6 separate regions of the Homo sapiens genome follow, and all the other regions are reported to be linked to region 4. The links are microRNA targets in miRTarBase. Many come from high-throughput screens and were not tested one by one. Region 4 holds a microRNA gene; each other region holds the end of a gene's coding sequence. Distances are from middle to middle.

Evidence for each region. The annotated mature microRNA hsa-miR-3140-3p reads AGCUUUUGGGAAUUCAGGUAGU and lies in region 4 at 3,032-3,053, opposite strand. An mRNA with a match to its seed (bases 2 to 7 or 8) in the 3' UTR can be bound and repressed. Matches are read on the target gene's strand: a 7mer-m8 pairs with bases 2 to 8, a 7mer-A1 pairs with bases 2 to 7 and ends in A, and an 8mer does both.
Region 1: the mRNA of PCDH19 is a reported target of hsa-miR-3140-3p. Seed matches in the 3' UTR shown: 7mer-A1 at 3,689-3,695.
Region 2: miRTarBase lists ARRB1 as a target of hsa-miR-3140-3p. Seed matches in the 3' UTR shown: 7mer-A1 at 1,458-1,464, 7mer-A1 at 1,612-1,618 and 7mer-A1 at 3,981-3,987.
Region 3: the mRNA of COL27A1 is a reported target of hsa-miR-3140-3p. Seed matches in the 3' UTR shown: 7mer-A1 at 3,406-3,412 and 7mer-m8 at 3,176-3,182.
Region 5: the mRNA of ACTR2 is a reported target of hsa-miR-3140-3p. Seed matches in the 3' UTR shown: 7mer-A1 at 1,184-1,190 and 7mer-A1 at 2,649-2,655.
Region 6: miRTarBase lists PI4K2B as a target of hsa-miR-3140-3p. Seed matches in the 3' UTR shown: 7mer-m8 at 987-993.

The regions. Positions count from the first base shown.
Region 1 is chrX:100,292,225-100,297,336 of GRCh38, forward strand. It overlaps PCDH19 (protocadherin 19), which reads right to left. Exons shown (of 6, transcript NM_001184880.2): 6 at 1-4,651. The coding sequence ends at 4,053. Among named protein-coding and RNA genes, the nearest start is that of PCDH19, 120 kb to the right of the region's middle. RefSeq lists enhancers at 3,779-4,330, 4,331-4,880.
Region 2 is chr11:75,261,888-75,266,999 of GRCh38, reverse strand. It overlaps ARRB1 (arrestin beta 1), which reads left to right. Exons shown (of 16, transcript NM_004041.5): 16 at 726-5,112. The coding sequence ends at 837. Among named protein-coding and RNA genes, the nearest start is that of TPBGL, 24 kb to the right of the region's middle. RefSeq lists enhancers at 316-815, 816-1,317, 3,352-4,283, 4,642-5,112 and a silencer at 906-995.
Region 3 is chr9:114,309,862-114,314,973 of GRCh38, reverse strand. It overlaps COL27A1 (collagen type XXVII alpha 1 chain), which reads right to left. Exons shown (of 61, transcript NM_032888.4): 61 at 2,463-4,425. The coding sequence ends at 4,279. All of the region lies in intron 1 of LOC105376224 (a long non-coding RNA gene), which reads left to right. Among named protein-coding and RNA genes, the nearest start is that of ORM1, 11 kb to the left of the region's middle.
Region 4 is chr4:152,486,305-152,491,416 of GRCh38, forward strand. MIR3140 (microRNA 3140) reads right to left here and starts at 3,112; the gene lies at 3,023-3,112. The region is part of intron 2 of FBXW7 (F-box and WD repeat domain containing 7); the gene reads right to left.
Region 5 is chr2:65,268,276-65,273,387 of GRCh38, forward strand. ACTR2 (actin related protein 2) reads left to right here. Exons shown (of 9, transcript NM_005722.4): 9 at 289-2,978. The coding sequence ends at 459. Among named protein-coding and RNA genes, the nearest start is that of ACTR2, 43 kb to the left of the region's middle.
Region 6 is chr4:25,276,672-25,281,671 of GRCh38, forward strand. PI4K2B (phosphatidylinositol 4-kinase type 2 beta) reads left to right here. Exons shown (of 10, transcript NM_018323.4): 10 at 343-2,533. The coding sequence ends at 516. Among named protein-coding and RNA genes, the nearest start is that of ZCCHC4, 34 kb to the right of the region's middle.

The DNA.
Region 1 (5,112 bases), not on the chromosome of region 4:
TGTTAGCTGGTTTGTTTGCTAAGGTTGACAGCAACTTTCAGTTAGTAACAAGGTCATCTTGAATTGCCAACACAGCTGGAGCAACAGTCAGCATCATCAGTTTTCCCTAATGACCTACAATGCTTTCCAATCAAGATCAGGTGTTTGTGGGTTATTCTTTACCAAGAGCGCCTTCCAATCTATGTATCAGACAAGGTGGTAAATTTTCTTTGTTTCACAAAAGCAATATGATTCCTATTTGAAATTAATTCACTTTTGCACAACAAGTGACCCACAAGCCAATTCCAGCGGCACAAGAAAACGAAGAGAGCTGCAACAACTTCATTAGGACAATGTGTTTTGCTCTGGAATATTTCATTATCAATATAAAGCCACCCGGTCCCAGCCCCACCCCCAAACATCCCCTTTGAATATTACTTTGTTACATACTTAAACTAAAGAACAACATCTCAATACACTTCAGTGTCAGCAGATACAATTTGACTCATGAAATGACATCCTTAAATGTAATTTTACCAAGAAGGCAAACACTAGGACTGTATACAATGGATTTCTTAAGCTCATTTATGCCAGTTTTTCAAAGTCAATAAGGGTCTTATTACCCGGGGTAAAGAGCCAAGTGGACCAAACTTGTCAGAATGCTTTGGGGGAACATTCAACATCAAAATGATCCCCAGAAAGTGGATTGGAATTCCAGCCAGAACTGCTATTATGTACAATAATAATCCTTTTCCACTCTGGATGCCCAATCGAGCTATCCCCTTCACCCTGCCTCTCCCTAAACTGCCCTTTGTCCTTGCTGCTTCAAGTGGACCACTTTTTGTTTTTAATATGATAGGGCTACAGGGAAAAGTCAGCTAAACTCCCTTCATAAAATCAGTCAGTCATATGCTGAAGTAACACTATCAAGATGATACTCTTGAGTGGTTCCAATTTTCAGAGATCTAAATTGTATTTTTTAAAAATATTTCTGATTAGAGATCAGTGGATCACTAAGCGAACAATTTTGTCTAAATGAACACCTTAGGTGCAATTTTGGATGAAGAAGTATACCTGTCTGGGGAATTGCCAAAGCAGTTATCATTAAAGCATGTCACACTTCAACACCAACTCCTCCTTAAAAGGGACATCAGAATAAATGGAATAGAACTCCCTAGGACTTAGGAACCGAAATCACTCCCTTGAGTTTATGTGTGCAACATGTTTAGAGAACAAAAGGGAGAATATTTGGCCCTGTGAACCTTGTAGCTTTTCACCAGACATGCCAAAAAGGAGAAGGTGGGGTGGGGCGGGGGGGACATGAGCCAAAGGGAAATTTAGGATCCTTGCTCAGAATGCCTATTTGCAGGTACAGCCTGCCTACAAAACCAGTTTACAAAGCCTTCCTAGTATGCACTTGTGCTTCTGAGAGGACTCATACATCAGACAATTGTGGGGAAAAATATTTCCTTAATGAGAGGAATTCTCTGAACATGCTCAGTGAGGTTTGGAAGCCAAAAAAATCTGACTGCCCACTGAGAACAAAGTATTTGGATAGGGAAGAAGGATGGATCTATAGCTTGAAGATGAATTATGAAAAGAAATGAAGAAAACCCAAGAGAAAAGCAAAATCAATGCCAATGCCACTCTAACCATTTAAAACTTGGCTGGTAAGAGGCATGGCAGCCAGTGGCCTCTCTGGCTCAACAGCCACGTGACAATTAATGTTCCCACTTTCCACAATCTTTTCTGCTCCCTGGTTCCCACTGAGCATAGCAAGAAATACACCTGTAGAAAACTGTGAAGTCTGACTTCAAAGTGACCTTGAAATCGTAGCTAATAACATAATATCAGGATGGATCAGGGTGAGAAACAGTCTAAATTCTATAGGCAGCCATCATAACTTAAAGGGGAAATTTTTAAAAAATTTTTAATGTGTTAATCAAATAGTCACTTGCAAAGAGAAATAAATACTTAATTCAAAATCCACTACCAAAATGAAATAAATCAGAGGGAGAAAACTGTATGAGAGGCAATGAAATGAGGAAAAATGAAGATGTTATGGTAATTCATCCTTAATTGTGTCAGCTTCAGAGGGAAATTTGCAGCCACACCAATATTTTGCATGAGGTAGTATTCAGCACTGAATAAGAAATAAGGATGGATTTGTAGCTTCATTATAAGTTCTTTTTCAGAAATGTTCTCCCCTACCTAACCCCATCCCTACTGCCTTACCCACCCCCTCCCTCAAAACCCTTCTCCCTCCTGTAAAAGAAAATATTCCTAGTAATGCGTAAAGCTAGGAACTCAGGCAAAAATAAGTAAAACATTCAAAAGAGCTGACTTATCTACCTAAACTTAAGAAAATAAATCCTCTTTTGCATTCTAGTGCTCTAACCTCTAGGCCTTCTCTCTGTGTATTCCTGAATTTCAAAAAATGAAACAAATGAAAACAGAACCATAAAACTTGTTTCTCTAGAAACAACTCTCTTAAGACCAAGGCAGAACAAAGGTGACATATTTCTTTAGTTTATTTTTAAATAATGAACTCTTAGGCTGCAAAAATACTATGTTGGCTAGTGAATATTAATAGACAAAAGATAAATGGGGGAGTTAGAGGAATGTTAAAACAGAAAAAAAGGATCTACAGTGTGTTAATTTAAAAAGGGTGTATTCCTAGCCTACAGCAAAAAGAGTTGGCTAAATCGAAAGGATTTTTATTTTAGTATTTTCTTGTTCACATTTTTAATCAAAAAACTATTAGTCATAAAAAGATGAGTTCAAGTGTCTGAGTGTCTCCGTTTAGAAGGCACAGTAATTGGATTAGCGATGCTGTTACCTGTTACCTGTCTTTTCCAAAATATACACTTTGTACTGCTTACTCTATCCCTACGTATATAAGCCTAAGATACAGAGCAACATGGAGTTCTCAATCCCAGCCCATGACGTGCTTTGCAGTCTAATTCTAATCATGATTGGGAAACACTGAATCAGGAAGTGTGTGTCTGAAGAGATGCTAATTTAGATCTTAAAATAGATTCAGTCATCTTCAATTTTAGATGATTGGAGAGAGGGAATTTCTAAGCCTGGAAACATAACTTCAGGAGCAACTTTCCTGTTCAGGGCCTGAAAATTTAAAAGATGGATGTCATAAAACTTTCAGCACAGTATTTCTGACAACTGCAAATTAGATAGCAGCCTATCCAAAAATGACTTTCTGCAATGATCTATCATGGACCTGGGCAGACCACTGAAAGGCAGGAAAAATACTTTGCAAAGTGGTGAGCAATCACTACATGAGTTAAAAAACGTGAGTATTCTCCAAGTACTCAATCTATATGCATGGTGTTGCTCATTCATTTGCTGTCTCAGTTGTTTGCACTTTGTTTTTGTCTGTAGTTTTATTATTTTTTTAAGAAAAAGAAAACACCAACTTTTAAAAGCCTTTTGCCATCACCACACACATAGCAATTTGCAATATCAAATACAACAATAGCACAGCTAGCAAAAGGGTTTTTAAAGCAGGGGTGTCCACAGCAAAGTAGCGGCATTGGGAAGTACTCGAGCTTCAGAAACAACCTTTTGGGGGCTCAATTTCACATCACTGAATCAATGAATAGTACACAATAAATGACCATTAACTTGTCTACACTACAAAAAACAGTGGCGAGCTTATTAAAGGTGTCCAGAGCTTTTTTTTTTCACTTTTTGCTTTTTTAAATGTAATCCTCCACAAACAATGGTAATTTATATTATAATTTTGACATAGAAAAATATATAAATTCAAACACTTAATACATAATACTTTTCACAACTGAATTTGTCTCTGTTTCCCCAACATCAAGGCCCCATGAACAACTCAAGCCAAAGCTAATTTGCTCCAACTGAACACCCCTGCTGCCTGTTGAAACAAGGGACTGTCACAGAATGATAATCACCTATAAACAATACATTTAGGAAAAGCTCTGAAATATAGCCACTCAAGAACCAACCATTGGTGAGCAATTAAAACAAGAAGCTCCTGCTTCTTCACTAGCCAGTGTGGTTTCTTTCTCTTCTTCCTGGAGACTGGTTTAGAGAACGATATCCTTCAGACGCTTCACACCAGGGGACTCTTTGTTGCGACCTTCCTTCAGAATGGGGCTGACCTCATGCATGACTTTCTCGCTATCAGCTCCACGGGGCTCAGCTTCAGAGGGACGAGTAGGGCCATTGTTGACATTGTTGACATACTGCTCCAGATCACGGGCTGGGGGAGCCAGGGCAATGGTGTAAGACACGGAAGGCTTGGTGGGCAGAGAGCTCTTGAGGTGGAGGGGGGAGGTGACAGGGCTAATCGCCTCACAGCCATTGCCTGCCTCCCGGATAACGCTGTTGACCTTGGGGCTGCAGATGGTCACATCGACAGTCCTCTTGCCTTTCAGGGTAGGCCTCTCCTCAGCCGGGTGGTCGCTGACATCTTTCCCAAAGGTTGCGAAAGTCCGTTTGGTGGGGCCGCAGTCGTCATAAGCCTCGACATCAGCAGCAGTAGCTTCAATAGACAGCGCGATGATGTTCCTCACATGCTCAGGGGACTTGGAACGGATGGGCATGGGGTTCCGGGGCATCCAGCACCTGTCAGAGTGGCCAAGAATCCGGCATTCTTCCCGGCAATGAAATCCTTCATTCTGATCTGTTTGGAAAAAAGAAAATATCAATTTCATCAGCTTTTCCCAGGATTCACTGTTACTCCCCAGTGTTCTGGTTTCTTAGATATCCACAGGCCCTTGTGGGAAATGGCACTTTTAGGTAGTCCTTTATTGCCTTTTGGGACAAGTGTGAAGAACTGGATTTTTTTAAAAGGCTGAAGATCTCCCTCTATGTATATCCTTTTTAAGGTTCCCACTACTGACAAAACAAAAAACCTAAAGGGAAACACGTTATGATGAAAATACATATATATTCTAAAGTTCATCTGGAGTGTCAAGGTGCTGAGAGTCAGCATTTTAATCAACAACTCCTGCTAAAAATCACCTGTGTTTGAAACTGGATTCAGCAGATGAGGGAGTGGAGGCAGGGAAGGGAATCCAACAGTCAGTGTATTTAAGAAGCCTTGGCCATATTTTTGAACAACAGCACTGCCAAACACCCTTC
Region 2 (5,112 bases), not on the chromosome of region 4:
GCATGGTCCTAAATGGACATGTTTCATGGTAGAAGGGAACTCGCTGTTCTTAAAGGCAGTCTAGTCCTGAAACCCCACTCAAGCCTCCCCTTTCCTCACGAACAGGTCCTCTGCCCCCCTATTTAGATTCACATCCTCCTACCCCAGCCTTCTTCTGTCTGGGATCCCCCAAGGTAGAATCTGAGCTGACACTTCTGGGAGAAAGGTTCTTCATGGTCTTCTCTTTCATTAAGCCAAACTACTCCTTGCTGTCCAGAAACGGGAATGCTTCCTAAGGGTAGTTTTCTGGGTGGTGGGGTGGGGTTTGCCGGGCCTATTCTTGGGGGATTCAGAACATGCTGTGAAACTACTGGTGGCCTGGCCTCTCACAGTGGGAATAAGTCCTTCCTCTGGCTACAGAGCCACACTGCTCCCCCCACCTCCTAAAGAACCAGGTTACTTTTCTAGCCCTCAGGCACAAGAGTCAAATTCATGCCCCTCTCTGCCCCTTTCATGACTGGCCCGAGTCCTGATGTGACTGTCCCCACTGCCACAGGTGGCATCCACATGTGCCAGCCAGACAGGCCTTTCTGCTCATGGTCAGCCCCAGAGGCCAGAGACCTCAGAGAGGGTGGTTCTCCCCGGCCCCAGAGCCATACTCTGAGTCACATCTGGCCGGGCCTCTGGATAAGCCTACTCTCCCTGCCCCTGCAAACACACCACATTTTCCTTGTCTCTCCCACCAGTGATGACGACATTGTATTTGAGGACTTTGCTCGCCAGAGACTGAAAGGCATGAAGGATGACAAGGAGGAAGAGGAGGATGGTACCGGCTCTCCACAGCTCAACAACAGATAGACGGGCCGGCCCTGCCTCCACGTGGCTCCGGCTCCACTCTCGTGCACTCGGATGCTTACTCGTCTTCTTCCTGTTCTGGTTTCTTTTCCCCTTTGTTCTTCCAGTTTCTACCAGGGGGCCCCGTGGGCTTCCAGATCACGGTGATGAACCTCTGGCCTCAGGATTGGCCCCACATCACCACGCCAACAGGACCACAGCGCACTGGCTCCACCCCATCTCTGCCATCTCCACTCCCCTCCTTTTCATGCTGTCTCCCAGAAAAGCTGCCAGGGCTCTGGCCTTGGAATTGGACTTGAGATGGGGAGCAGACAGGGGAGGATGGGGAATGTGGGACACGGTGTGGTGGGCATGAGGGCTTGGAGGGGTGGGGATGAGGGCTCAAGACACGAGAGAAGATGTCCACGGTCCCAGGTGGTTAACAAAGTTCTGGCAGCTAAAAGATGACCGCGTTGAAGGCCACCTCCTTCTGGCTGGGAGGGGCAGAACTGTGGACAGATTCTCAATGCCTTTTTGAAGTTCTGACCCACCAAAGACCTTCTGCCTTCACCCTCCTCCCCACCTGATGTCCCTCTGTGTCTGATAGTGATGTTGGTGAAAGTTCGTAGACCCCAGGAGTAGAGAAAAGCAACTGGACTGACTTTCTTACCAGCAGTTACCTAGACTGAGGCAAGCTGTGTGGACTCACCCAAGTATATTTCAGTACTGTCAGGCTGTGACATCTTAGCTACCTTGTATTTCAAGTGCATGGCCCTGTCTAGAGATATGCACAGAGAGAAAAGCAGAGGGAGGGAGGGAGGGGGTCTTCAGCAAGCACCAGCCCCCAGCAGAGTGAGCTGAAGCTCCTGAGGAGGGTTCCCGAAGGGGGGCGCTCAGAGATGGGGGCAGGGGGCGGGGAGAGGAGAGTCTGCCTTATGTCCCTTCCTTGTGGACTTCACATGGTCATGCAGGAAGTGAGGATGGGTGTCCAGCGGGGGCCGAGGCCACTAGTATCCTCCTGCTTCCCCCTGCCATTCTCCAGGGCTGGACTGACCCTATGGACTGGGAGAGAGTGCCTGAGGCCACCATGCCACAGTCAAAGGGGGTCCTATCTCAGAAGGTGGCAGCATCCACTGAGATATCCTCACCCGAAGGGAAGGAGGCTGCTGGGTAGCAAATAAGCCCCTTCTTTTCTTGGTGAGTTGATGACCTCCAATAGCTCCCAGTGTCATGGGTACCCAGTACGCATTAGCTGGTGTTGGGTTGATTGAGACCTGGGGCAGTTCCTGGGGCAAGAAGCCAGATGGGAGATGAGATAGAAAGTGTTAGGAGTTATCCTCTTTGCCTGGCCTTTGAGAATAACTTACTGTGTGACTTTGGGCAAGTTCCTTCCCCACTCTGGGCCTCAGTTTCTCACTTGGGAAAGCAAGGAGTTTGACCAGATGATCACAATGGGCCTTCCTAGCTCTGGCCACCAAGAATTTGTGAACATTAGAGCTCCTGGTCTGGTGGGTAGAGCCAGAGCTGCTGACTGGTCTCTCTGCCTCCAGAGGGGATTTATTGGACCTCAGAGGTGGCAGGGCCCTATGGAGCACCAACTGCCCTCAACCCCACCCTGTGCCCAAGACTGGGAAGGGATTGATGTCAGGCTGTGGCCATAGGTAGCATGAGTTGCCCAAGGAGGGACAGAGCATATCTTTGCTGAGGCTTGGCTGAGGGGCTTATGATAGGGCTTGCAGTACCTCACAGCCCCCTGTGGGCACAGACACCCTGAGGTTTACCCAGGCAAATATATTGATTAGCAGGACAAGGGCTCTCTCCTCAGTTTCTGCTCCCTTCCATCTCTCTCCCATACTTGTCTGAAAAGGGAGACAAAAAATCTTATACAAGTGGCATCTCAATCCTTTCCAGTCCAGCACCTCCTGGGGCAGGCAGTGTGACTTATTTCCTGTGGTGAAATCACCTGTTTCACAAGCCTGGCAGCGCGACTTCTGAGTCTCATGACCACTCAACCCAAGGGACCCCTCCCCAGACCAGAACCAAGTCAGCTGGGGGCTGTCGTACTACCCTGTCCAGTCTTGAGGGCCTAGTTGCAGGTCCCCCAGGCATCCAGCCCCTCCTAGAGCTTGCTGGGCAGGCTGCACCTCATCTGGGCAGGCGCAGAGCTGATGAAATGCTGGAGCAATGCATGGCAAACATATGCCCTCCAGTGTCTTCTGAAACCTTTGGGGCTGACACAAGATCCTTTAGTGTTTGGGATGACCTCTTTCCTGCAGACTTCTTCCCCTATCCCTAACTCATGCATGGAAAACGTTTGTCAGGCTGGTTTCCCGAGCCTCCTGCACCTCAACATCACGCTCACCCTTTTGGGTTTAGCCCAGTGTTATTTAGCAAATTTCTCCAGCTGCAGGGAAGGATCAGAGCACTATCTTTTTTTTTTTTTTTTCTCCTGGAGCCAGGACTGCACAAGGCAATGGCCAAATTTAGTTGAATTCAGCCTACCATCCTTTGCTGATGACTCAGCTCTATGCCAAGTACTGGAGCCACAGAGATGGGTCAGTCCCAGCCCCTGTCCTCAGGAAGCCCATGGTCAGGGAAACGTTGTAGGGATAAGTAATAGAGGGCAGTTGCCTTCAGGGCTCCTGGTGGCTGCTGGTCCCTATGGTGCCTTGATGTGAATTAGAAGACGGTGCCCTTTCCAGGTGGATTCAGACCTACACTAGAACGCACAGCTTTGGGAGTGACACACAGGTTGGATTTTAGCACCCCTTGCCCCTTGGCCAGAGGTGCCCTGCTGCACGGCCATACGCTGCAGCCTCGAGGGACACACAGGCCAAAGTGTTTCCTTCAGCCTCTTCCTGGAGAGGAAGCCGCAGGTCATGTTTCCAAGCTTCTGGTCAACTCCAGGCACCACCTCCCAGCCCCCAAACATGGCCGAGCCAGTGCTTCTCTGCAGGGCCCCTTTCCTTTCTGGAGTCAGCCTGCCCAGGTGATACCTTGAAGTGAAACTAGGGGTGGGGGAGCCTCACTAGGCCCCAGGCACCATCCCACAGTACTGGCGGTTTCTCTGCCAAGTGTTTGGGGCCTGCACTGGCCAAGCCATCCGTCACTGGGACTTTGCAGTGTGCCCTGTGGGTGGCGTGTGGACACCGGTCCGGGCAGGAAGGAAAAGCATGCCCCGGTGAAAACCCACCGAGCAGAGAGCCAGCGGGACCTCCTCAGCATTCCACCCAGGGGAAGAGTTCAGTCCCCATGAAGATAAGGACTGAGTTATTTGGCTGCACCTCTCCTCAGCCTCAAAGCTCAGACCTGCTAGAGTGGGTTCACCTGGCTGTTGGTTCTGTGGGAGAGTTCCTGACAAGCTGGTTCCTACATGGTGCAGTGAAAGGAACTCTGTCCTGGAAGTCCCCAATGCCGCCTCTCAGTCCTGCCTGTCACCAACCACCTGGGGGGCTTGGGCAAGCTACTCAACCTCTGGGGCTCAATTTCCCTAACTGTAAAATGGGATTGTAATCCCTTCCCTGCCTGACGCAGGAATTGTTATGAGGCCCAGATGAGATGAAAGTCAGCGGTCAGGGCTCTGTAAGTTGAAAATGGCTGGATGTGTGTGGCCCTGCCACTGCAGGGATGGCCCAAGGTCACACAGAAAGTTTGCTGCAGGAGGAGCCCTCCCCACCAGTCTTCATCGCTTGCCCTGCTTCTCACTTAGGCAGATGTCAACCAGAATGAGATACAGCCAATTTGGCTTTGATGACCCAGCTGAGAGGGAAATTTAGATACAATTCAGGAATATCATGCCCAAAAATAGTGGTCCCAGCAACCAGGACACAGAGGGAAGACCTGGATATTGTCAGTGATTGGTGGAGGGGGACATCTTGGACCCTCCTAGGCCTGGTGTCACATCTCCCATCTCTCAGACCCCACAGAGGCCAAGGGGCCTTGGCTCTGACCCAGGTTAAAGAGAGCCACCAGCCCCCAGGCTCAGGGAGCTGAAACCACCCATCCGCAGAAATCTAAGGGCAAGGAGAAATAGAAATTGTCTGTTCCTTCCCTTCAAAGTGTAAGGCCTCTTCCAGGAGCAACTGGAGCCACCACAGCTTCTCAGTGACATTGGGAGGGCTTCGGGCCCAGGAAAAACCCAAGCCTTTTGTCCTGAGAGCCGAGCCACAGCGGATGCAGTGGCGTCAGCATCCCAGAGCGGCAGCTTCTCTCCTGCCTGTCACTGGGGACTGGTTGCTCTCCACCCATCCAGGAGGAAGGGGTTAGGTCCCAGTCTTACACTCTTATAGGGTCTCATGG
Region 3 (5,112 bases), not on the chromosome of region 4:
CCTGGATGGCTCTGCTCCAGGGCCCCATGGCAGTCAAACCCAACTTGCCAACTCAGACCTCTGCTCATCTGTGCAAACCTGTGACTTGTCATGTTCCCAGCTCCATACCGCAGGCTTCCTCACCCTTTCCTGCAGCCCCACATGGGAACACTTACCGTTCCCAAATGCAAAGTGCTACCTTTACCTCTGGGCCTTGGCAGGCACTGTTCCCTCTACCCCAAGTGCCCTTCCCCATCTGGCTCACTTCTATTCCTTCTCTTTCAACCTCAGCTTGAGGAGTGTGATGGTTAATTTTATGTATCACCTTGACTGGGCCACAGGGTGCCCAGATATTTGGCCAAACACTATTCTGGGTGTGTCTGTGAAGGTGTTTTTGGATGGGATTAACATTTGGGTAATCCCATGGGAGACTGAGTAAAGCAGATGGCCCTCCCCAATGTGGCTGGGCTTCATCCAATCAGTTGAAGGCCTGAATAGAACAAACAGGCTGAGTACGAGCGAATTCCTTCTGCCTGACTGCCTTCAAGCTGGGACAGGTTTTTTCCCTGCCTTTGGACTTGAACTGAACCGTTGGGTTTTCCTGGGTCTCAAAGCTGCCAGCAGCCAATCTTAAGATTTGTCAGCTTCCATCATTGCATGAGCCAATTTCATATAATAAATCCCTTAATATGGAGTGCAGTGGCGCCATCTCAGCTCACTGCAAGCTCCGCCTCCCAGGTTCACACCATTCTCCTGCCTCAGCCTCCTGGGTAGCTGGGACTACAGGCACCCGCCACCACACCCAGCTAATTTTTTTTCTATTTTTAGTAGAGGCGGGGTTTCACTGTGTTAGCCAGGATGGTCTCGATCTCCTGACCTCGTGATCCGCCCACCTCGGCCTCCCAAAGTGCTGGGATTACAGGCGTGAGCCACCGCGCCCGGCTGCAAGTTTTTAAAATATAAAATCCTGGGTATAAACTCAACTGTTAGTGATGTGCTCTTTCTCCTCAATGAGAATGGCAGAAAAGTTCTGATTATTCATTGTCCCAGGGAAGGAGGAATAAGCTGAGGAAGAAAGAGATCTGAAACAAGGGTCAGGAAATGTGGGCTCCAGGCCAGGATACTCAGATACGTATAAATTTCAGATAAATAACAAATAAAAAGATTTCTAGCATAAGCATTTCCTCAAAATTGCATGGAGCATACTTGTACTAAAAAATAGCTATTGTTTATCTGAAATTCAAATTGATCTGGGCATCCTATAGTTTTATTTTTTAAGTCTGGCAACGCCATCTCCCAGACTCACACCCACTCACTTCTTCCGTGGCAGGTACTATTGTGACTTCTCTCAAGAATGTGACAGGCAGGGATCACTCCTTTTGAAGCATTATTCACAATAGCCAAAGGTAGAAACAGCCCAAATGTCCACCAGTTTGGCTCAAATATCCATCAGCTTATGAGTAGGTAAACAAAATGTGGTTTATCCATGCAATGGAGTACATTCAACCATAAAAAGAATGAAGTACTGATACACGTTACGACACAGATGAATCTTGAAAACATCACGCTGAGTGAAAGAGGCCGGGGTCACAAAAGGCCACATACTGTATGATTCCACTTGTATTAGGTCGGTGCCAAAGTAATTGCGGTTTTTGCCATTTAGAAGTAATGACAAAAACCGCAATTACTTTGGCACCAATGTAATATAAAATGTCTGGAGTAGGCAGAGCCGTGGACACAGAAAGCAGGCTGGTGATTTTCCAGGGGTTGGGGGAGGGTGGGACTGCTAAAATGGGTACAGGTTTCCTTTAGGGGTGATGAAAATAATACGAAATTAGATCATGGTAACGTTGCACACCATTCTGAATGTACTATCACCAGTGGCAAATTTTATGTTATGTGTAATTAACCACAATAATAATAAAAACAAATTGCTCATGTTAACCTCAGTGTACCTCCTCCCTGTGTGTTAGGAGTTGAATCGTGTCCCCCCAAAAGATATGTCCTAACCCCCTGCACCAGTGAATGTGACCTCATTTGGAGATAAGGCCTTTGCAGATGAAAGTAAGTTAAGGTGGGGTCATGAGTGTGGGCTCTAATCCAATATGACTGGGGTCCTCATAAAGAGAAGATGGAGCAGAGAGACACATCAGAACACGTGTCACCACAGGGACACAGACCGAAGTGCTGCAGCTGCAAGCCAAGGAATGACTGGGGCTACCAGGAGCGGGAAGAGGCAAGGAAAGATCCTCCCCTTGAGGCTTTGGAGGGAGTGTGGCCCTGCCAACACTGCCTGTGTGAACTTCTGGCCTCCAGAACTGCGAGAGAGACGGTTCTGTGTTGTTTGCAGCCACCAAGTTTGTGGTATTTGTTACAGCGTAAGGAGGACATCCTCTGAGCATCTCCTCCCACTCCCTATCCCAGCCCAGCCAGAAACTGCCCCCCTGAGCTTTGAGAAGCAGCACGGGACCACAGGCGTGTCATTCCATTGCCTCAGTTTTAAATATTTATTTAAAATCCAGAGGGGAAAAGGAGAAACGGAACCCATTGGGGTTTTAATACACTGACATGTGGACAGAGACGTAAACGAAGACAGCAGGAAAACCCAAGAATGAGACAGAGGCCAGTGGATTCTGGCAGCAGGAGGGATCCGAGCGCTGAGATGAGGCCCGAGCTGCTACAAACACGCACTTCCACGCAGAGCGTCCAGGCTGGGGCGGCAGGGCGAGGATACAGAAGTGTTGGGAGGGGGGACGGGCCAAAGTGAGGTATTAAATAATAAAAATCAAATCCAATTCCCAAAGAGACACAACTTTAGGAGAGAAATACACAAATAGAGACTTTCACATACATTTTCCCCTTCTATAAAAATAATTCCATGGTTAAAATAACCTCAAAATCCAATTCAAGCGCCGACTTGTTCGCTGATGTAGCACAATTCAGAGGACGCTGAACGTCACTATGGTGTCGAACTCCGAGATTCCCATTATTATTCTGTCTCCTTGACCCAAATTTACACTTGGAGCTAATGACAATGGGTTTCTACAGAATTTAATGACAATGAAAAAGCAGGAACGATGATTGCATCTTGCAAGGACAGGCTCCTGGAAGTGAGGACCTCGGAAGAGGCGATGCGGCTTCCTGAGATGGTTCCATGTTGATGCTTCACCTCTAAGCCTAGCCCTGACCCAACGCCGCTTTTGTGATTGGTTTCTTCAAGGTCAAGTTTTCACCCAAGACCTCTCCAGGGCACGCCTTCCAAGGCCAGCCTCACCTCCCTCCAGGACCGTGAAGGGCCAAGCCAACATGCTTCGCACCCAGGCCTCCCTGCTGCCTTAAAAGGACAGACATTTCAAAGTCCATAAGTTATATGGTAAATCTCTCTACTTCTGGTTTCTGGTAGGGTTTTTGTTTTTGTTTTTGTTTTGCTTTTTTTTTTTTTTTTTCCTTTTTTCTTTTCTTTTTTCCTCCTTAGCAGATTACCTGATGAGCACAAGGGCGATGCTAGGAAAATTCAAAAATTCCCCAAACTTTGTCATTTGGAGGAGAGAGAAAGATGCGGATGATGCCCCACATCCAAAAGTTTCTTCAAAGTCTGTGGCAAAATAATGGTAGCACCTTCAGAATCTTAAATAGGGATTTTTTTTTTTCCTTAAAAAAATCACATACACTGTGAGAGACAATTGTGAGCACCAGCGATTTCACAGTGGGAGGTAGCAAACGTGGGCACCCCCAGCCCGAGGATCTCGCCGCTTCCCACGCCTGGCTGCTCCTTCCCATCCTCTCACCTCTTTCCCGGGTGAAAAAAAAATAGTAACGCACCTTCTTTTTGTTTGTTTAAATAATATATATATACACTTCTGTCTTTCCTTTTCTCCTTTTTTCATGTCTCCTTTCTAATATTGCACATCAATAGCTCCCTAGCAGGGACCAGCTGACGAGACGCCCCCTTCCCTCAAGTTGGCTTGAATGTGGGGCTCTTTGGGCAGGAAGCTGGGGAGGGAACGGGGTGGCCGCAGAGCTGAGAGGCCACGGGGCTCAGGCAGGTTGCAGGTCCAGCTTACTCTGGCTGGCTCTTTGGTTGGTCTTTGGGGCTAAGCTGGGATCCATTGTTCCCAAGGACACCCTATCCCCTCCTACCCCCACCCACTTCTACTGGGCAGACAACAGCTGGGGTCTGCCCAAGGACCCTTGGGCAGGGGAGCTGCCTCTCCTGGAGCCATCTGCCCCTCAGTACCCTCCCCTTGCCTCTTCCTCTTCCCTCCTCCGTGAGGCCTAGAGTGGCCACGAGGTCAGAGGTCAGAGGAAGCACGCAGGTCCAACTTCCAGGCGGTACTGCTTCCCTGATGAGGCAGGAGGGAGGTTGTCCACACTGATGATGGGCAGCTGTTGGGGGTCTTGGGTCCGGAAGGTGAAGAGTGTCTGATGCCAGCGGCCATCTTGGACCTGAAGGCAGAAGGAAAAGTGCACACGTACATCCATCGTGATTCTTATCATACATCATGAGCATTTTCCCTTCCATCTTTCCTCACAATTTTTAATGGCTATACTGTATTTCATTGTAGCAATGACCTATATGGCACATTTAGATTGCTTCCACTCTTTTTATTCTTGTAAGGAATGCTGTCATGAACATCACTGTAACTAAACCTTTGTGTGCATTCTTATTTCCCTAGAACAAATTCTAGAAGGATTGTTCTAGATTGCTAGACCAAAAAACAAGTACATCTCATATACATATATATATATTTTTTAATTTATTTTTTCAATAAGTTTTTGGGGAACAGGTGGGGTTTGGGTACATGAATAAGTTCTTTAGTGTACACGGTACCCAATGTGTAGTCTTTTACCTCTCACCCCTCTCCCACCCTTTTCCCTAAGTCCTCAAATTCCGTTGTACCATTCTTATGCCTTTGTGTCTTCATAGCTTAGCTCCCCTGAAAATAAGTACATTTCTAAGGTTTTGGATATATATTAGAGCTGCTATCCAGAAAGCCTCTACCAATTTATTTTCTTCCAACAGCTTCATGCGAGATTGTTGGTTTCCCCACATCCTCATGAACACTGTGTAGTATTATTAGTTTTGTTTAGTCTTATAAAACTGATTTTTGCCTTTTCTCAACTTTCTGTCTT
Region 4 (5,112 bases):
TTCTTTCTTCAATAATAAACCTTAGCTCATATAAACTTTTTAGTTTTTAAACTTTTCTGACTTTTGTAATAACATTTAGCGTAAAACTAACATATTGTACAGCTGCACAAAAATATTTTCTTTCCTTTTATCTTTATTTTACAAGCCTTTTCTATTTTAAAAAATTCCTGTTTTACTTTTAAAACTGTTTTGCTAAAACCTAAGACACAAACAAACACATTAGACTAGCCCTACACAGGGTCAGGATCATCAGTATCACTGTCTTCCACCTCCACATACTGTCTCACTGGAAGGTCTTCAGGGACAATAACATGCACAGAGCTGTCATCTCCTATAATAACAATGTCTCTGGAGTACGTCCTGAAGGAACTGCCTGAGGCTGTTTTGCAGTTAACTTTTTTTTTTAATAAGTAGAAGTACATTCAAAATAACAACAAAAAGTATAGCATAGTAAATACATAAACCGTTAACATAGCTGTTTATTATTATTATCAAGTATTATGTACTGTACACAATTATATGTGCTATACTTTTAGACTGGCAGCACAGTAGATTTGACTTACACTAACATCACTACAAACATGTAATATGTTGGTTGTGACGTTAGTCCTAACATGTTATAACAGCTACAACGTCACTATGCGATAGAAATTTTTCAGCTCCATTATAATCTCATGGGATCAATGTCGTATATGCAGTGCATGACTACATAACAATAATGGATTTTAGTTCACCGAATTAATGAAGAAACCATGAGCCCTTAGTGAAAGGACAGAAACTCCTTTACAGAAAGAAGAATGCCAGCTAATAAATGTGGAAAGAATAATAGATGTAGAAAATCATTTTGCAAGCATCAATGTAACCAATAATTCAGGCATAAATCAATAATGGATGTTAAAAACACTGGGTGAAAGGCTGTTGAGAAACAATGTTTACTCAGTCTCAAGGCATTACCCCACAGATTAATGATTAATTATCAAGGGGAAAAGGATACTTTTACAATAGAGAAATCAGGTCACACCACCTTAACCAAGTAATCAAACTAAACATCATAAATAATGGACCAAACTAATAATTCAGAGGATAAAATAAACAAACTTTAAGTACATACAAATATCAACATGAATAAATCTTGATGTAAATAAACACTGAGTGAAAAAAGCAAGTTAAAAAGTTATGCCAACAGTATATTATTATTCACATTTTAAAAGGAAATCAGTACTGTTTATCTTTTTATACAAATATGTGGTAAAAAGTATTGAAAACTTACAGGATACCTTTAGAAAAGTAATTACCTCTGAGAAGAGAGGCAAAAGAATGAGATTAGTAATCTTCAATTATATTTTTAATTTATTTTAAAAAGTTCTGAAACAGTGATAGCAAAAAGTTAACATTTGTTAAATTTTGGCAGTACAGATACATAAGCATCTTATATTCTTCCTTGTATTTTTTATATTTTGAAGTATCATTTAAAATTGTTAAATTTAAAATGGACTGCTGCTACATAATTTTCAGTTTTAATAGCTATACAATACTTAGTTCTGTAATTCTTGCTGTTTAAAACAACCGTTTTGAAGAACTTTGATTTAGAAGGTCACCAGTGGTTCCTATTTTAATCTTTAATGTAAATTAACAGAAGCAAATTGGCACTTCCAAAATGATTCTAATAAGCAAAATGCATTCCATTTAAACAAATAAAAAATAATGTTAAAAGTATGCCATCCAAGTGGCATTACATCTCCAGTTTAATACTTCCTGTATCTCATATTGCTTTTAAAACTGAACATTCTTTGGAGAATTGAAAGTTTGACTATTTTAATAATTTGCTTTTGTCAATCACTTTGACTAACTCTACAAAATCATCCTATTAAAGTTATTATTTTAAATATCAATTAATAGGTCTATAAAAAACCTACTGTTATAAGACTGGTGCATAAAAAAATATAAATTTTTCAAGTGATTTAGCAGTAATTTAGTTCTTCATCATGTTCCTTAAAAGGCTTTAATCTATAATCTATTTGTAAAAACTTTCTATTTTCTCCTTAAGAGAAGGTCAACGGCTTTCACTTCACTTGTCTAACATAATCATGAATTGAAATAAGAACTCTCAGCTCTTTGGAACGACAATGCTACCAGTATGCCTAGGCCAATAAAGCGATTCGTTCATTAATGCTGCTAATAAAGCAACCTTTTGTTAGTCTATGAAACATCAGAAACCTTACAGACTCTAACTTTGCAATTTTTCCCTGTTTTGCCACATGAACTTAAAAGTTCTCTTACATGCCATTTACTTTAATAACTAAAACACTATCATTCAAAAATTCAATCTTCCACTCTAGGTAAGTTAATAACTTAAAAAATATTCGCTCCAACTGCAGAAATTTCTAGATGAAATTATGTTTTAATTAATTATTCTCTTGTGTTTTCCCATAAAAACCAATCTGTATAGAAGTCTGTGCTATCTTCTATTAAACAACTAAAGGAACTACCCATATAATATTCTCAAAAAGAAAAGCATAAATGTTCATTTATTCAATTAGCACCAATCAACTACAGTAAGCAAGGCAAAGAAAATACAGCAAAGATTAATACACAATTCCTGCCCTCAAGCAACTCAATTTAGGGAGTAAGCCAGGTATCTGTAAAAATTACTGTAAGGTAGTTTATAATATTAACTACTAAATATAATAGTATAAAGAATATAATTAACAGAGCTTAGACAGGATTTTTTAAAACCTTCCATGAGACTTTTGAGGCTAAATAGAGAATAGTCTATTTTAGGTAAATAAACAGCACGTATAGAAACACAGATGCATCAAACACCAAGGTAAATTCAGAAATTCTTAATTCTGTAAGGCTCAAGGGTATCATGTATGTAAGGAATTATTAGGAAATGTCTGTCAGTTCACAAAGGGCCATGTTTGTGTTGCCCTCGAATTTGAACTTTATTCTAGGCAATTGGCAGTAATTAAAAGGCTATAAGAAGTAGTGTATGGTGCTCAGTTCTGTTTTTTAGAAAAGTCACTCCTGAACTACCTGAATTCCCAAAAGCTCTTATTTTCAATAACTTCAGAATACATAAAGCTTTTGGTAATTCAGGTACCTCAAGAGGACATAAATGGTAGGCTTCCAAGCCTACCAAGACATTCATACTCAGTATAACTATATACCTACTCTATACTGCTAACTTAAGTTTAGCATTTTCTAAACTAACTGTCACTTAAAGAGAAAAATCAATACATGAAATATTGGTTCTAATATTAGTCAACTATTTTTAAACCTCTTCAAAGTATTGGGAAAATATCAGTTTCCAGGAATTATAAAGTCATGTTATTGATACATTTTAAGAGTTGCAGTTAAAGTCAACAGGATGTGTTTAGAATTTATAAAATTAATCTTAAAATTTAGCCCACTGTAATCCTTACTGTGAACATCCCTGGAACTGAAACCTGGCACCCTTATCTTCTTCTGAGCACTGTCTTTTATGCTTACTACCCTCCCCTCAATACCACCCCCATGCCTACCTTGAAAACTCCATGTTCTTACATGACCCTGGGCTACAGTGAATTAGTCCAACTTGACCCAGCCATACCAATGTTTTCAGTTGTTACCTATTATGACTAAATCCATAAGCATTCTTTAAAAAAAGCCTTGCAAACATGTTTTCATTTCTATTAGGGAAGTACTTTCTTCAACCACAAAAAATGGAACTAGAAGTCGCTACAACATGAATTAACTTTGAAAATATTATGCCAAATGAAATGAGAGGACAATAAGACAAACACTGTATGATTCTATTTATGAGGTACCTAGAATAGTCATAATCATAAAGACAGAGTATAACATACGTTACCAGGAAATCAGGGGAGGAAAGATGGGAGTTATTGTTTAATGGGTATCAAGTTTTTATTTGCGATGATGAAAAACTTCTGGAAATGGACAGAGATGGATGGTTGCAAAATATTGTGAATGTACTTGATGCCACTGAATTGTATATTTAAAAATGGTTGAAATGTAAATTTTATACTATGTATATTTTGCCACCAATAAAGAAAAAAACCTTAGAGGAAAAATTTGTTACTTATTGGACTCCCTAGAACCCAAGAAAGTAAAAAAGATCTAACATTTAATAAGTACCAGGCATTACATATACTACCTCAAATAGCCCTCCCAACAACACTATAAGGTACACTTAGTATCTCTGTTTTAATGAGGAAGAAACAGGCAAAAAGCAGATAACTCAAAAGTCACAGAGCTAGGAAATATTGGGCATAGGACTCAAACCCTGGCAGTCTGACTCTGTCTCTCAAGCAGCAGCATAAGTTAAAAAAACATTCATTACAGAAATCTATGTTGTTAAAATTGCCTAAATACTCCATGGAAATATGAACTGGCAAAAATCAAAACATAATCCTGCACCTACAATACCAATAGTGTGTATCTGCATTAAGGACAACATGTTTAATGGTATAATTATAAGCAAAGCAGATTTTTTCTATCTTTATTACTTATGAGCTCACACCTTCATTTGGCAGTAAGATATATCAAAATTTAAAACATACAGCAAGCAGTACAAAAAATAACAAAACAACAAGCTCTTAAAGATCGCTGTCCCTGATAAATACCAAAACTAATAGTCAAAGGAAGAAGCACATTAGAGAAGAGAGAAAAAAGAGGTGATTTAGAATATTCTTTGTAAAGAGGAAAGGGGTCTTTCACTCACACGGCTTAATACATTAATAAGGAAGAAGCATAATAAAGCTCAAGGGCATTTGAGAACCAACTGACAGGACTTTCCGGATATAGTTCCAGATCTAATAACACAGTTTTATTGCCCCTTGTTTTTATCAGATGCCAATAAAATCAGAAAGAAACCATTATCATTTCTCAGTCATTCTCTCACATTCATACATTTTATAACATACTGACCTTACAACATAAGCAGTAATAGAATAGCTCTTCAATTTGGGTATCCTTCAATTTTTTTAAAAAACTACACCAACATAATCATTCAATAAATGTATTATTATTCTAGACATTAAAACAGCAAGAATAGATATATCTTTCCCTCCAAAAACTTAGGCTTAGTCTAGTGTAGAGGTTGATAATAGT
Region 5 (5,112 bases), not on the chromosome of region 4:
ATCAAATTAGGACACTCAAGAATGGAAAGGGTGGTATTAATAATGATGGGACACCACGTGTAAATCAGGACTGTTCCAAGCATGCTGGGATGGATGTGTGGTCTCCTAAACATGAGCTTTGGGCAAATTACTAAATGTTTCTGTACCTCAGGTACCAAATATTACGTTCTACTTATATTACAGGACTGTTGCAAGTTTGAGGGAGAGCATATATTTAAAAAGCCATTTTCATAAAGCAGAAAGCACTGTGCACATGTACCATTTCATTATCCTTTCTTTCTCCTTTAGAAATTTAAGATCCGCATTGAAGACCCACCCCGCAGAAAGCACATGGTATTCCTGGGTGGTGCAGTTCTAGCGGATATCATGAAAGACAAAGACAACTTTTGGATGACCCGACAAGAGTACCAAGAAAAGGGTGTCCGTGTGCTAGAGAAACTTGGTGTGACTGTTCGATAAACTCCAAAGCTTGTTCCCGTCATACCCGTAATGCTTTCTTTTTTCCTTTATTGCCAATCTTTGAACTCATTCAACTCCAGGACATGGAAGAGGCCTCTCTCTGCCCTTTGACTGGAAAGGTCAAGTTTTATTCTGGTGTCTTGGGGAAGCTTTGTTAAATTTTTGTTAATGTGGGTAAATCTGAGTTTAATTCAACTGCTTCCCTACATAGACTAGAGGGCTAAGGATTCTGTCTGCTGCTTTGTTTCTTCTAAGTAGGCATTTAGATCATTCCTATAGGCTTCCTATTTTCACTTTACTGCTCTAATGCTGCTAGTCGTAGTCTTTAGCACACTAGGTGGTATGCCTTTATTAGCATAAAACAAAAAAAACTTTAACAGGAGCTTTTACATATTACTGGGATGGGGGGTGGTTCGGGATGGGTGGGCAGCTGCTGAACCCTTTAGGGCATTTCCTCTGTAATGTGGCGCTTTCAACTGTACTGCTGCAGCTTTAAGTACCTTAAAGCTTCTCCTGTGAACTTCTTAGGGAAATGTTAGGTTCAGAACTAAAGTGTTTTGGGTGGGTTTTGTTGCGGGGGGGAGGGTAACAATGGGTGGTCTTCTGATTTTTATTTTTGAGGTTTTGTCAACTGGAGTACGTAGAGGAACTTTATTTACAGTACTTTGATTTGGCAGGTTTTCTTCTACTTGTGCTCTGCCTGGAGCTGTTTCCATATGATATAAAAAGCAAGTGTAGTATTCCATTACTATGTGGCTTAGGGATTTATTTGTTTTTTAAAATCAACCATGTTAGCTGGGATTAGACTCCCTACAGTCCTTCAATGGAAAAGTAACATTTAAAAATCCTTTGGGTAATTCGAATTACAGATTTAAAAGAGCTTAAGATCTGGTGTTTTGTTAATGCTTCTGTTTATTCCAGAAGCATTAAGGTAACCCATTGCCAAGTATCATTCTTGCAAATTATTCTTTTATATAACTGACCAGTGCTTAATAAAACAAGCAGGTACTTACAAATAATTACTGGCAGTAGGTTATAATTGGTGGTTTAAAAATAACATTGGAATACAGGACTTGTTGCCAATTGGGTAATTTTCATTAGTTGTTTTGTTTGTTTTGATTTGAAACCTGGAAATACAGTAAAATTTGACTGTTTAAAATGTTGGCCAAAAAAATCAAGATTTAATTTTTTTATTTGTACTGAAAAACTAATCATAACTGTTAATTCTCAGCCATCTTTGAAGCTTGAAAGAAGAGTCTTTGGTATTTTGTAAACGTTAGCAGACTTTCCTGCCAGTGTCAGAAAATCCTATTTATGAATCCTGTCGGTATTCCTTGGTATCTGAAAAAAATACCAAATAGTACCATACATGAGTTATTTCTAAGTTTGAAAAATAAAAAGAAATTGCATCACACTAATTACAAAATACAAGTTCTGGAAAAAATATTTTTCTTCATTTTAAAACTTTTTTTTAACTAATAATAGCTTTGAAAGAAGAGGCTTAATTTGGGGGTGGTAACTAAAATCAAAAGAAATGATTGACTTGAGGGTCTCTGTTTGGTAAGAATACATCATTAGCTTAAATAAGCAGCAGAAGGTTAGTTTTAATTATGTAGCTTCTGTTAATATTAAGTGTTTTTTGTCTGTTTTACCTCAATTTGAACAGATAAGTTTGCCTGCATGCTGGACATGCCTCAGAACCCTGAATAGCCCGTACTAGATCTTGGGAACATGGATCTTAGAGTCACTTTGGAATAAGTTCTTATATAAATACCCCCAGCCTTTTGAGAACGGGGCTTGTTAAAGGACGCGTATGTAGGGCCCGTACCTACTGGCAGTTGGGTTCAGGGAAATGGGATTGACTTGGCCTTCAGGCTCCTTTGGTCATAATTTTAAAATATGGGAGTAGAAAACAACAAAGAATGGAATGGACTCTTAAAACAATGAAAGAGCATTTATCGTTTGTCCCTTGAATGTAGAATTTGTTTTTGATTTCATAATTCTGCTGGTAAATGTGACAGTTAAAATGGTGCATTATGTATATATATTATAATTTAGAAATACCATTTTATAATTTTACTATTCCAGGGTGACATAATGCATTTAAATTTGGGATTTGGGTGGAGTATTATGTTTAACTGGAGTTGTCAAGTATGAGTCCCTCAGGAAAAAAAAAAAATTCTGTTTTAAAAAGCAATCTGATTCTTAGCTCTTGAAACTATTGCTACTTAAATTTCCAATAATTAAAAATTTAAAATTTTTAAATTAGAATTGCCAATACTTCTACATTTGAGAAGGGTTTTTTTAGAAATACATTTAGTAAAGTCCCCAAGACATTAGTCTTACATTTAAACTTTTTTCTTTAAAACATGGTTTTGGTGGTTAACTTTTACACAGTTCTGAGTACTGTTAATATCTGGAAAGTATCTTGAGATATCAGTGGAAAGCTAAACAGTCTAAATTAACATGAAATACTTCATTTTGATTGAGAAAATAAAATCAGATTTTTTCAAAGTCAATTTGAATTTTGTCATTTCTTTCTAATAGTTATTTCTTGTTTCATTTTCTTGTTAATGCAAGATGAATTGACAGTTTATGCTAGTTGTTAGGTCAAGTTCATGTCAGTGTTCTATTATTGACAAAACAACTCATTATTTCTGGTATGATTTTATAAATACATAAGAAAATAGAATAGCGATTTATAGCTACATCAGAGGCTGTTTTCTTCCAACAAACTGTTTTGTCTCCCAAAAGATTTAAGGTGGCTTTCACAGAATTAGAAATGCTAAAGAGACCTGTATGTAACATGCCCCCTTTCAAGGACATATTAGCTCATCTGCAGACTTTTAGGCATATTATTTTTAACAAATAAAAGAAGGATGAAAATACATTTAACTGACCTTTTCTTGTTTTATACTAGCCTTGAGGATGAGGGCTGGAGAGTAGAGAGAGTATTTTTGCCTTTCCTTCTTCGTGGACTTGTATGTGCAAACCTCATTGCCCGCTTCAGGGCCGGAGTCCCAGACAGCGAACGTAAGGGTTGTCTCTGGTGTTTTATCTAGTTTCTTCTGAGTTGCGGAAGAAGAATATGATAACAGCTATCTCCATATGTAATGGAGGAAGAAAATACCAGGCACTGCATAGTGCCTTTGATGGAATGAATGTCTCTCAGTGCACTTCATTTTTTTCCTCCACCCACAAACTTTGACCATTATACAATTGAGTGAGTTTATTAACTGTATTAATTTTAGAACCATCAAAGAGGGTAGCCAACTAAAGTGAACCAGAAACTCGAGGATTAATCTAAACTCGATTTTTTCTTTCTTTTGAGACGGAGTTTCACTCTTGTTGCCCAGCTGGAGTGCAATGGAGCGATCTTGGCTCACCGCAGCCTCCACCTCCCGGGTTCAAGCGATTCTCCTGCCTCAGCCTCCCAAGTAACTGGGATTACAGGCATGCGCCACCACGCCCGGCTAATTTTGTATTTTTAGTAGAGAGGGTTTCTCCATGTTGGTCAGGCTGGTCTCGAACTCCCGACCTCAGATGATCCACCCGCCTCAGCCTCCCAAAGTGCTAGGATTACAGGCGTGAGCCACCGCGGCCGGCTAAGCTCAATATTTAACATGCTCTCTAACCTTGGACTAATTGGCCAACTACACACAATACTGGGATACTTTTTTCCTCTGGCTCAAAAATCTCTGACCTCTTTGAAGATTGAAAAATGCTACATCAGAGGTAAGTGGAGGAGGTAAGGGGACGTACCTGGGAAAGCATGTTTGCATGTGTGAATAACTAAAAGGCTAAAATTAGTGACTTTAACCATTATATTGAAAGTAACTTTTAGTCATAGAATAGAAATAAACTTGATTTAGAGGAGGTGAAAATAGGCAGCTATTACAAAAATTTCAAGTGATGTTCACATTAATATAACATTTTAAAAACATTCTAAAGCATCTTTCTTTGTATTGTTTAACATCTGAAATTAGGAAGAAAGAAGCTATTGAACCATAGTTACTTTTGTTTAAATTATCTAGACTGGCAGTGACAAAAAGTCTTGTTGCCTATTATAAGTGTCTCAGTTTGCGTTATCTGCAGATGTAAAATATCTGAGTAGGGGGAATTCAAATGATTTATCTCTTCCTTTTGGCAGAATGGAGTTCCTGTCTCTTTCATATCTACCCCCTCAACTCCTCCCACCCACCAGAGGAAAAAAGGAAAGACTGGAAAAGACTTGGCATATAATTTTCCATGAAACATTTGACGTAGGAATAGAAGAATTAGAGAATGTTGAGTAGATTTTCATGGACCAGTTGAAAGGTTTGGGTTTGGCAAGTGCAGAAAGCAATCACAAAGGTATTACAGAGTGATTCTTATGCCCAGGGTAGCCTTTAAGAACTGTACCCTTTGCCATTCACAGCAAGTGGAGCTTTTGCCTGATGAATGCTTTAAAAAATCGGTAAAAAGAAAACTCCAGTGAGTAAAATATTTGTTCTTCCTTAAATATGGGTTTGAAAAAGGGCCTCAACTCTCAAGGATAAGGATTTTTAAAATTATACTTTTTGTGCATAAAAGTGTAATTACGACCGGGCACGGTGGCTCAGGCCTGTAATCTCACCACTTTGGGAGGCTGAGGGGGGCCAGTAACCTGAGGTC
Region 6 (5,000 bases), 130 Mb from region 4:
TATGTTAAATTGAATATGTATGTAGACCTCTTCACTTACCGTTCTTTGATTCCATTGCTCCTGGACATAGGCAGGATATTCTAGAATATTTTAAACTTACCATCTGGCAAAAGTTATTTAATGCTAATTGTGTGTGTGTGTGTGTGCGCGTGTGTGTGTGCGCGTGTGTGTGTAAACATACATTCATATAATACATATTTATAACAGGTACTTATCTTCACAGTCTCTGTTGCTCATAAATGGATGAAATAAAAATTATAATGAATAAATGGTTTAAAAAATGTCAGTGAAGTGAAGCTTTTTATCTTTTTAAATTGGTAAAAATCTCTCTTCTTCCCACAGATCTTAAACCTTACTCAGGCATTGAGAGACGGGAAGAGTCCTTTCCAGCTAGTACAGATACCTTGTGTGATTGTGGAACGCAGTCAAGGTGGAAGTCAGGGTCGGATTGTCCACCTGAGCAATTCCTTTACCCAGACTGTCAATTGCAGGAAGCCATTTTTTTCCTCCTGGTAGTAAATGTCAGAGTAAGAGAAACAAACTGTTTAGAATTATCATGTTTTTAAAACATCATAGTAATATAAATCTGCTGTTAGGAGCTCCAGTTGCTAAAACCTCAATTTAAGTCTTTAAAAGGTTGTATTTTGAATGTAACCAAAAGTTTACAGTTTTTTGTCCAAATATTAAATTTCTATTTCAGGGAAGAAGTGCTATATCTCCTATATTGTATTTTTGTAGAAAATTTGTATTTTATGTTGTTGTTAGTTTAAAAGGTAATTTTACACATGCTGGAATGACTGTAATTACTCTAGAATTCCAAGTAGAATACAATAACTTTTAATATTGAGAAGAATGTTCATGCTAATTCTTCTTACATTACAAAAGGCCTTTGAGGATGCCTACGTCTGAAATTGCTCTTACGAACTTTAATAAAATAGTTAGCTAATAGAAAAACAGGTAAGAATAAAGCAATGTTGCCTTAATTTCAAAAGCTGCTATTTTAGAATTTGAATAAGTACTCCTAAAGTGACCATTATTAGGGACCAGAAAATTATATCTTGGCTAAGTAATAGAGGACCATTTTGGTTTTTGTACTTGAGAATATTTTTGGTGAATTACTTTGTTGTAGTGAGGAAAAAACCTAAGAAATTTCCCCTTTTTTTAAAAAATGGAAATATTCAATTGAGACTTGAGGGGAATAATAGAAAATTAAGGTAGATCCCCAATATTTTGGAATACCAAAATTGCCTTAAAAATTCCCTTCTGTTTCTTACATGGGATCAAATACTTGAGATTAGTACTTCAGAGTACTGGCCTTGTTCAATTTAGTACTTCAATTAGTATTAAACTTCACTAAAAAGTAAACCATACTCCAAATTGTATATTGGATTGCATTTTGGGGTCCTAGGTCATACGTTCTTCAAAATTATTATGATTGTACTATTGTACTTGAAATTACAGATGTTATTATAATTACAGTCAAATGTAGACTATCAGGCCAAATTAAAGGGGAGCATGGCAGATAACCATAAAGTCATTTATATTTGATTTTGAAATGTATTTTTGTACTTTATTTTGAATATCATCCATATGTCTGACATTATTGGAATTTGTAACATTGTTAATGCACTAAGTGATTTAAATTCAATTGATGAAGATGTGATTTTACAGAAGCAGAAGTTTCATTTTCTTGAGGCTTAAAACCAATGTCACCACTTGGGCTTAACTGGGTAATTTGTGGTCTAGGCCTTTTGTTTTCTAAGCTTACTATCTTGTGTTTGTTTATTTGCTTTTAATGAAGTATTTTGTGTAGAAGGTTAAATTAGGATGCAAAACAGATCTGCCATTCCTTTTTCCCTTATATCTTCCTTTTGGTCTTCATGGACGAGATGAATGAGGATTCTGCTGCCCTGAGGGAGTTCATTGGAAACCTGCGTTCTCCTACCTCTTCCAACCCTCCATTAGCTCAATTTTGAGATAATGGAAAATTGACTGGAAATTCAAAACTCAAACTACTATCTTTAGATATAAACACTAGTAATTAAAATGTGCCTTTTGAAGATGTTTTCTAAGAGAAAGGAAATACGTTGCAGTGATGTGGGTACTGCTTTCATAAAACAGTTTTTTCAGTATTTTGAGAATTGCCATATTAATTTTTATAATGGAAAACTTAATAAATTGCTACTGTTTTATATCATAAAATTAAAATACCATGGTAATATTTGCAAAAGGTCTGGCCATACCAGAAAAGTACAGTTGAGATAGTTAAGATATAACCACAAGTCAGAGTACATTGGTTGTATTTTGTAAACTTTCATGAACTGAATTCTTATTTAAATAGTATGGTTTTTTTTCAATAAGTATATTTATAGTGACAAATGTGGTAGACTAAAGGTAATAAAAATCATTGTCTTAAGATTATGTTCTTCTGTATGTACGTGTTTGGAATATTTAGAATGTTTATGAACACATTTACTATAAATGATGCCAAACTATCATTTTCTTCATATATTAAAGGTATAGTTTAATTCTTTTTTTTTTTTTTTTTTTTTGAGACGGAGTCTCACTGTGTTGCCCAAGCTGGAGTGCAGTGGCATGATCTCAGCTCACCACAACCTTCATCTCCCAGGTTCAAGCGATTCTCCTGCCTCAGCCTCCCGAGTAGCTGGGACTACAGGCGTGTGCCACCATGCCCGGCTAATTTTTGTATTTTTAGTAGAGATGGAGTTTCACTATGTTAGCCAGGCTGGTCTTGAACTCCTGACCTCAAATGATTTGCCTGCCTCGGTCTCCCAAAGTGGTGGGATTACAGGCGTGAGCCACCACGCCTAGCCTAATTCTTTATAATTCCAAAAGATATTTAACTGAAACCTTTATAATTAAAGACATCTTAATTGTACTTAATTAAATATGCCACCACCTTATCACCCCAAAATTTGTCAGCAATTGAAGACTGTTTGTGGAGACATGGTTTTTGCATACTTGAAGATAATTTGATTCACAAAACTTTTCAAAAATTTGAAATACTTTGGGCAGCCGAGGTGGGCAGATCACCTGAGGTCAGGAGTTCGAGACCAGCCTGGCCAACATGGCAAAACCCCATCTCTACTAAAAATACAAAAATTGCCCAGGCGTGGTGACACACACCTGTAATCCCAGCTACTCAAGAGGCTGAGGCACAAGAATTATTGAACCCAGGAGGGAGGGTGGAGGTTGCAGTGAGCCGAGATCACACCACTGCCTTCCAGCCTGGGTGACAGAGTAGATTCTGTCTCAAACAAACAAACAAACAAACAAACAAAAAAATTGAAGTACTGTACTATATGGAATTAAAACCTTTTTTAAAAATGACGGTGCCACGTTCTTTGATCAAATTACATCTTAAATCCTTGTACAGCTGTTTGAATAGACAGGCAGCATCCTAGGTTTTATAGTCTGCCTTCTTTCACCAACTTGCTTGGGCAACTGTACAGAGTTGTAGCAGAGATTCTTAGTGCTGTGCTATGTTTCCAAGTCTCTCATGCAATTAGTTTGGGGCCTTGTGACTGAGTTCTGGCCAGTGAGATGTGGAGACAAGTGATATATGCAACTTCCAGGCCTGGCAGTAAAACTGTCACGATTGACCACTCTCTTGTCTTTCCATTCAGCTATGAACGAAGAATTTGCAAAATGGAAGCAGCCAGGGCACAGGAGGCACTGCTGGGGAAAGCCACCAGGAGAGCCTCCTGACTGCACTTGATGGTGACATGAGCAAGAAAGAAGTTCCATGTTGAGTCACTGCAGTTTTGAATGTAATTGTTACTCTAGCTTCGTCTCTCCTATCCCAGACATTATGATGTAAAAAGAAAAATACCAATCACTTTTAAATAGGAGGCATACCGTAACATTTCTTCACTAAAGCTAGGTGAAAGGTTATCTTTTTGAATTCCAGAATATGAATAGTTTGGGTTAAAACCATCAATACATGGCCAGGCATGGTGGCTCATGCCTGTAATTCCAGCACTTTTGGAGGCCAAGGCGGGAGGATCCCTTGAGCTCGGATAGTTTGAGACTAGCCTGGGCAACATAGTGAGACCTCATCTCTTAAAATAAATAAAATCAATACCAACAAGATCACGTGGCAATAGCAGCTTCGGAGGATCAAGCAGAGAGAAGGGAAGGGGGATTTGTGATGGTCCTAAGAGCCAAAGAACCCAGAATTTGCCACCATGTACCAAGCCCCCACAAGAAGGATCCCCAATAGCGGTGGGAGTTTCAATTGGTAGAACCAAAAACCACAATCAAAATTAGGAGAAGGCTGCCCAGCATTCACCTGGTAGCTAGCAAAAAGGCCTGCAGAAAGGTGTGAGGGTACTAAGGCAATCTGGTCTTCGTAGTTTTCAAAAATAACCAGTGAGAGGACATAGGGCTATACCAAGAAAAAGTACTGGGAATAGAACATGCACAGACGAGGGAAGGACCCCAGGGGTAAAGGAGAGTGGTTCAGATAATGAGAGAAGAGGGGACCAAATGAATGAGACCGAATTCAGAAAGTACTGAAGAGGTAGGAACACACAAAACCATCTTATCTAATACTCTAATAACGACAGAAGAGAGAGCCCTAGAGCCACGAAGCTCAGAAACTGTCCTAGCCCACCCTCACCTCCTACACAGGAATCTTCTAAAAATACAGGAGGAAACATATAGAAAAATCCATCTGATTTAAACATCTTACAAGATGTAAGACTACATCTTACAATATGCTTGAAGAAAAAAAGGTTTACAATCTGCATAACATACCCACAGAAATGAAGATATCCCAGAAACATCTCTCTAAAGCAAAGGAAAACAGTAATCTAATGTTTTAAAACATGCTGAAGGAATTTAAGAAGCCATGGAAGCTAAGAAAGAACAAAAAAATTGAAAAAACTCTGATCGGGCATGGTAGTTCATGCCTGTAATCTCAGCACTTTGGGAGGCCGAGGTGGGAGGATCCCTTGAGGCCAGGAGTTGGAGAGCAG